Homo sapiens: one gene and its partner. The protein of the gene in region 2 interacts with the protein of the main gene of each other region in a biochemical or structural test. Each region holds a gene or a part of one and is shown on either strand. Other genes may lie near its edges. The genes, in order: CD1D and LILRB2.

Evidence for each region.
Region 1: the proteins of LILRB2 (region 2) and CD1D form a complex in vitro, tested with the Homo sapiens proteins (one large-scale study listed by IntAct).

Annotation. Positions count from the first base shown.
Region 1 is NC_000001.11:158,179,190-158,183,694, forward strand, and holds the start of CD1D (antigen-presenting glycoprotein CD1d isoform 1 precursor), read left to right. Parts: upstream 1-1,705; 5' UTR 1,706-1,912; coding exon 1,913-1,973; intron 1,974-2,265; coding exon 2,266-2,532; intron 2,533-2,842; coding exon 2,843-3,121; coding exon of another isoform or gene 3,122-3,245; intron 3,246-3,688; coding exon 3,689-3,967; intron 3,968-4,505. UniProt on the Homo sapiens protein: Antigen-presenting protein that binds self and non-self glycolipids and presents them to T-cell receptors on natural killer T-cells.
Region 2 is NC_000019.10:54,275,530-54,278,235, forward strand, and holds part of LILRB2 (leukocyte immunoglobulin-like receptor subfamily B member 2 isoform 2 precursor), read right to left. Parts: intron 2,411-2,706; coding exon 2,360-2,410; intron 2,072-2,359; coding exon of another isoform or gene 2,069-2,071; coding exon 2,021-2,068; coding exon of another isoform or gene 2,013-2,020; exon of another isoform or gene 2,007-2,012; intron 1,451-2,006; exon of another isoform or gene 1,401-1,450; coding exon 1,278-1,400; intron 928-1,277; coding exon 852-927; intron 773-851; coding exon 735-772; intron 475-734; coding exon 422-474; intron 1-421. UniProt on the Homo sapiens protein: Receptor for class I MHC antigens. Recognizes a broad spectrum of HLA-A, HLA-B, HLA-C, HLA-G and HLA-F alleles. Involved in the down-regulation of the immune response and the development of tolerance.

The DNA of each region.
Region 1 (4,505 bases), on a different chromosome or scaffold from region 2:
TTTTTATTTCTCATAGCTTCCCTCCTATCCATTATTTAGGCAATTTTGTATCCAAATTTAATAATTTAACACCTTATTTGTTACAAGAACACGTTACTATGTTATTTTAAGCTTTTTTGGGCAAATTACACATAATTAGATAGGCTGGGTTAGGGCTGTCTACAAGATCCCAGCCTAGAGTGTGGTGCAGTAGCCTATTTTCTCTAGGACTCTTGCTGCAACAGGATATGGGAGAAGGGAAACATTAACGTTAGCAGAATGGGAGGAATCAGATTATGGAGACATGATCCTTGCCTTCTGGCACCTCTCCAGCTGATTTAGAAGAGGACACAGAGGGAGACAGACATATGGCCATTTCTATAATTATAAACTCTGCTACATGCTGAGAGGATGGCTTCTCAAAGCCAGTTAGTGTACAAGCAGTGGAGGTTGGGACTGCCCTACTTCTCCTGCCTAGGGTCACACAGTCTGGCAGATCTGGAAAGACTTCCCTGAGAAAGTGACCTTGGAACTGATACCTTAGTGGAAATAACTAGGCATTGGGAGGGGGTGAGGTGAGGAGAAGGTCAAGAGCTTTCATGTAGAGGGAACTTTGTGCAGAGACCTTAGTCAGGAAGAGGTTTTGCATAGTGGAGGAACTGAAAGCTAACAGCCAGGCTACAGTACAGAGCAAATGATGCTGGGGTGTGAGGTGATGTCAAAAGGTAGACACCAGGGCTAGAGGGCGCATAATCTTGCAGGCCGTGCTAATGATTTTGTTTTCTACCCAAGAATGCTACTTCAGGAGATCAGTCAAAAGGTTAGGGTGATGGTGACGGTGGAAATATAGAAAAAGGAATTTATTCAAGAGGTATTCAAAAAGAAGTGAAATAGAGATGAGTTGGAGATAGATTGGATAAAAAGAGTGAGGGAGAGGGAGGTGTCAGGCTGCAGCCCAGGTTCTGAGTTGCCAAAGAGGAGTCTTTTCCTCCAGGTGAGCTAAGGCTTAGAACCACGATTTTTGGTCACTTTTTCTTATTTTCAGTGTGAGAAGTGGCGAGTTGGCTGTCCAGGTACACACTGTCATCTTACACTTACTGTTTAAGACAGAGGCGCATATTTGGAAAGTGAATGAGTCAGGAGCCAGAGGAGAAGGTATGCCGGCAGAGCCTAGGGCGGAGAGGAGGAAGAGAGTCTGGGGGCGCGTCCCCAAAAAGGAGACAGGGAAGACAGAGCAGAGGCCGGGGAGGGGAGAGCAAGGACCATGACAGGAGGAAAGAGAGGCTAGGGAACACTGAGGTGGAGGAATCCTGGGATATGACAGTTGTAAAGAATTGTAGCCAACCTAATCCAGTTCTCTCAATGTGCAACTGAGGAAATTAATTTTCATGCGTTTACTTTATTGTAAATGTGGTACTTGCACTTGAGAAATTTTGGAAAACATAAAGATGTAAAGCAAATTAAGATCACTCATAGTCTTTCCACCTAGAGACATGTACTGCTAAAGCAAGGACTTTGATCCTTTTTTCCCTTTGCATTTTTACCATGGTTGGAATTGTAACACAGACACAACCTTATGTCCTGCTTCCAAAACATAAATAATGGTTGTAAAGCGTCCCACACGTTGACCCAAAGTCTCCTTTGAAACAGGAAATTGAGACACGCCGGTTGTGAAACCTACTGAAGTGAGCGGCGGCGCCAGGATTCCTGGGACCCCGACCTCTTTGCAGCTCGCACAGCTAAGGGCGAGGGCGCCCTTCGGCAGAAGCAGCAAACCGCCGGCAAGCCCAGCGAGGAGGGCTGCCGGGGTCTGGGCTTGGGAATTGGCTGGCACCCAGCGGAAAGGGACGTGAGCTGAGCGGCGGGGGAGAAGAGTGCGCAGGTCAGAGGGCGGCGCGCAGCGGCGCTCCGCGAGGTCCCCACGCCGGGCGATATGGGGTGCCTGCTGTTTCTGCTGCTCTGGGCGCTCCTCCAGGCTTGGGGAAGCGCTGAAGGTGGGTGGAACGAGGGCGCTTGAGTGCACTCGCGGGAGGGCGGAGAGAGGGAGCTGGGTAGGGACGGGGAGGGCAACGCCTGATGGGGACTGGTGAGACCCGGGACGCACTGGCGCGATCTAGGTAGAAAACTCGCTGCTCCCTGGCTCCGGGGAGAGGCAGCGCGGCACAGAGTTCGCTGGCATCAGCCGCCTCCTGAAGCTCATCTCCTCTTGTTTCTTTCTTCCTTCTCTTTATGCTGGCTGCTCTCCCGGCCACTTGCTACACGCCTCCAATCTTCATTCTCTCCCAGTCCCGCAAAGGCTTTTCCCCCTCCGCTGCCTCCAGATCTCGTCCTTCGCCAATAGCAGCTGGACGCGCACCGACGGCTTGGCGTGGCTGGGGGAGCTGCAGACGCACAGCTGGAGCAACGACTCGGACACCGTCCGCTCTCTGAAGCCTTGGTCCCAGGGCACGTTCAGCGACCAGCAGTGGGAGACGCTGCAGCATATATTTCGGGTTTATCGAAGCAGCTTCACCAGGGACGTGAAGGAATTCGCCAAAATGCTACGCTTATCCTGTGAGCTGAGGGATAGGATCCTGGGCCGGTACCCAAGGGGAGAGAATGGCCACAGAAACTCAACTGGGAGACTGTGGCACCACCTGATGAGATTCTCTGCTCTGTCCACCCTCTTCTGATTTCCCTTCTACCTGGAGATGTCCCAGGCTTTGACTCCTCAAAGTGTCCCTCGTTCCTGCCTACTCCAGGTCACTTACTTTCCTTTCCCTGAAGTCTGGGTCCCCATTATAACCTGCACATCAATTTCTTCTCTTTCATCTCTCCCAGTCTTTTAAACCCTTCTTTGATCTTTCTCCATTCCTCTCCACAGATCCCTTGGAGCTCCAGGTGTCCGCTGGCTGTGAGGTGCACCCTGGGAACGCCTCAAATAACTTCTTCCATGTAGCATTTCAAGGAAAAGATATCCTGAGTTTCCAAGGAACTTCTTGGGAGCCAACCCAAGAGGCCCCACTTTGGGTAAACTTGGCCATTCAAGTGCTCAACCAGGACAAGTGGACGAGGGAAACAGTGCAGTGGCTCCTTAATGGCACCTGCCCCCAATTTGTCAGTGGCCTCCTTGAGTCAGGGAAGTCGGAACTGAAGAAGCAAGGTCAGCCTGCCTTCCTTACTCCCTGCATTCCACTTCAGGGCTCCAAACGGGCTTTTCCATTCCAGGGTTCTCATCCCTTTGAGCATTCAAAGAAGAGGAAGGCCCAGGAGGGGCTGGATAAGGGGTGAGGGTATTTATTCATTTCACAGACATCAACTGAGCACCTCTTGGGTTCTATGAATTCAATTAATGAACAACTGGGGGTGAAAGGTGTCAGGCAGTTAGTTAGGATCCCTGCTTGGTAGGGGGATGTTAATTAATGCAATGCTTGAAATAGGCTACATATGTTACTTCAAAACAAAGGGTGTTATAGGGGAACAGACAAGGGGCATTCATAGGAGGCTGGGACCAGAGAAGAAGAAGGAGTATCAGGGCAGGCTCCCTGAAGAAGGTGGGACAAATGGATTGAAAGTTGTGGGAGACTTCATTTCCAGAAGTGAACATGTCAGGGGCATACAGGAAGGAGGGAAATAAAGACCTGAAAGTCAAAAAGGATGATATGAGGCCTGGAGCCTCTAATGCAGAGTTTTCACTTTAAGATCCCCCCCATTCCCTTGTTGGATACAGTGAAGCCCAAGGCCTGGCTGTCCCGTGGCCCCAGTCCTGGCCCTGGCCGTCTGCTGCTGGTGTGCCATGTCTCAGGATTCTACCCAAAGCCTGTATGGGTGAAGTGGATGCGGGGTGAGCAGGAGCAGCAGGGCACTCAGCCAGGGGACATCCTGCCCAATGCTGACGAGACATGGTATCTCCGAGCAACCCTGGATGTGGTGGCTGGGGAGGCAGCTGGCCTGTCCTGTCGGGTGAAGCACAGCAGTCTAGAGGGCCAGGACATCGTCCTCTACTGGGGTGAGAAAAAGCTGGGCCCAAGCTGGAAATGGCAGGAGGTGGTCCTCAGGCATAGAGGGAGGCACTGGGGTGGGATGTGGCTTGATATACCCAGGTTAGAGGAGTTTCAGAGATGAGGCCCCCAGTAAAAGGATAGAGAGAGGGGTTCCAGACACAGGAAGGAGGGAAATAAAGACCTGAAAGTCTAAAAGGATTGAAATAGTGCTCTCTATATACAAGAAGAAACAAGACTACAAAACTCAGGGATCCAGAAGTAGGCAGCGAATAAACAATCCCAGGACGATTCATTCCTTGGCTTAAAGGGAGCCAGGCCTTTGGGAAGGCAGGTTAGCAAAGATAGCTTGGTTGGTTGAGTGCTCCCTGTGTAGGGGCCAATGAATCTGCATATAATATCTCATCTCATCATTCACAGTTTTCTTTGAAGCAAGTACTGCTCTTTTCGTTATATAGATGAGGAAATGAAGGCGGAGATAGGTTAACTGCCCGGAGCCACATAGAAAGTGGACGGGCTGGATTTAGATTCAGGTCTGCCTTGCTA
Region 2 (2,706 bases):
CACCATGAGGTGAGCTCAGGAGGCGGGGGCGGCTTTGCTCCCTGCTGTGTCTGCAGCTCCCATGGGGAGCCTGATCCACAGTGAGCTCCCTGGGAACACTCACTGGTTGAATGAATGAAGGGGAGCCCAGGGGACCGGGGTGGTTCATTTATTCCTCATCCTCCAGAGGCCTGGGGAGCGCTCTAACAACCAGACGGCCAAACAGAGGATGAGGAGCAGGAAGGGGACCCGGGAGGAGGCCCACGAGGTCCCAGGACAGCAGGAGAGAGTGAGGTCACAGCAGGCGGGAGGCAGCGTGCTGGACAAGGAGGGGTCCACCGTGACGATGCTGAGAGCCGGGGGAAGGAGGACAGAGAAGTCCTGCTGGATTAGATCTGGCACCAGGAGGCCTTTGGTGCCTGGGACAGGGGCGGGGTCTCACCCGAGTGTCCATCTCCACCCCATCTTCAGGCTGTGTGTCCTTCACGGCAGCATCTGCTGGGGCAGAGCAAGGGGTTCGTCTCTTGGGAAGGTTCCCTGGGACCTCTGAGTCCTGCCAGCCCCTGCCCTGCTCCCAGATGGGGCTACTGAGATGCAGGGAGGGGCTGCAATGTCCCTGAGGTCCCACAGTGTGGGGTGAGATGATCTCACCCTGAGCCCCAGACCCTTTCCAGCCGGTGCCCCTTTCCCCATTGCTACGGAAACTTCGGGGCCCCTATCTCCCTCCTGGCTGGTCACCTCTTCCTCTCACTCACAGAGGTTTTCTTCCTGGGCGTCGGCAGCTGGGCTGGACCTGGGGGAGGAATGGGAGCTTTAGGGGCAGTGTATGGGCCACGAGCAGGTGGGAGTCTGGGGTCTTCGGGCAGAATTACCTCCACTGCAGGCCTCTGTCTGTGGGCTCTGGCCCCACAGCCCCTGCAGGATGTTGGAAATCAGCCTTTCTCTGGGCTGGGGGAAGAAGGACAGAGCCTCAGCCCTGGGAACATTGGAGCCCCCTGCCCTGCACACACAGCTCGAAGGTAAGGAAGGAAACCTAAAAACACTCCTGCCTCCATGTTCCAAATGCCTCATGAGATGGACAGAGTCCGAAGGACACTTTACATTTGTAGATGGGACTGAGCCCGGAGGACACTTTATATTTGTAGATGGGACTGACGTTAAGTGCTTTCTCCATTCACCTGGTGAGAAATGCTGGAACAGTTTCTCAAAGCTGCATTTGCCCAGTGGTTTGGATTCTCTTTGGCTGTGCCCTGAGCCCACCCTCGGTCGGCCCACAGGGTTTCCCCTTCCCTACTCACTCGATGTCCAGTGTTTGCCCTGACGTCGATGTCGGAGGATGAGGAAGAGGAGGAGGAGGAGGAGGAGCAGTAGGACGACGGCCACCAAGATGCCGATCACAACCCCCAGGTGCCTTCCCAGACCTTGAGCACGATGATGTCAGGGATGGGGGTGATGTCATTGAAATGAGCGCCTACTGTGTGCAGGTGACTGCTGGACCTTCTGTTCACCACCTCCAACCCCCACAACAGTCGTGCAGCACACAAACATCCACCCCACCCACTCTACAGATGAAAAACTGACGCTCAGAGAGGGGAATCGCCTGCCCCGGGCCCCCAGCCAGGAAGCGGCAGAGCTGGGAAGGGAGCCTGGGAGTCTGACCTGCAGCCCTTGTTCCTGCACCAGAGCCGAGCCCCGGAGCTGCAGGGAAAGAGCCTTACCGTCCTGAACCACGACTCTGCTCCCCTCCCCTGCCCCAGGTCACCGTCTCTGCTGCAGGTGGGACGGGACAGGCCCCCGCGGAATCGAGTCTTGGAGTCTTCCCTGAGGGGCCTCCTCTCCCAGGAGGTCACAGCTGGGAGTGAGAGCTGAAAGGAACTTTCCCACCTGCAGGCCTCTCTCCTTTACACTTGGAGAAACTGAGGCCCAGGCAGGGGAGGAGCCTGTCTACATCACCACCTCCAGAGGAGCCTGAACCTAGGACAGAACCCACCCCTGCCTCCCCGGGACCCCGCCCACCTCCCACTCAGAGCCCCTCACTCACCACTTTGGGGATCCGACCCAGTGGGGGTGAGGGGCTGGTCCTCAGGGCCTGCTGGGTCAGGACGGGGAGGTGAGGGCTGGGGCTGCCCTGCTCCCCACATCAGCCCGGCTGCTCCTCCCCCAGGCTGGGCCCCAACATTTCTCTCTGCCTTGACCCCCCACCCCTCACCAGCCCAGCCTCAGAGCCCTGGGGACCCTGTGGCCCCTCCTCTGGCTCTGCCCAGCTCCCTGGACAGAAGCCCTTGATTGAGTCCCTGAAGGGAATGGGATCCTCCTGGACACTCAAAGCTGCCCTGGGGGTCGCTGCGCTCCCTTCGAGCCAGAGGCCTCAGGGACTCACCAGGTGTGGAGATGGGACCGGTGGGTGGGGGGCTGGAACCCATGGAGGGTCCTGGGTGAAAGAATGAGAGGAGGGTGAGGAGCTGGGGCTTTCCTGAAGTCTCCACCTCAAACCAAATTTCTCTACATGGGCCCTGTGGCCTCCCCAGGCCCCTCCCTCCACCCGCCTCTCCTGTCCATGATGCTGGCGATGCCGCTGAGTGTGCGCAGGCCTGGGAGGGCCTGTTGTCCTCCTTCCCTCTGAGGGTGAGTCTCCCACTGGCTGAGCCCCGCTCAGACCCCCGCTCACTCCATCCCAGCCCAGAGCTCTCCTGGGGGGCAGGGCCTGAGCTGAGCCTTTGAGCTCAG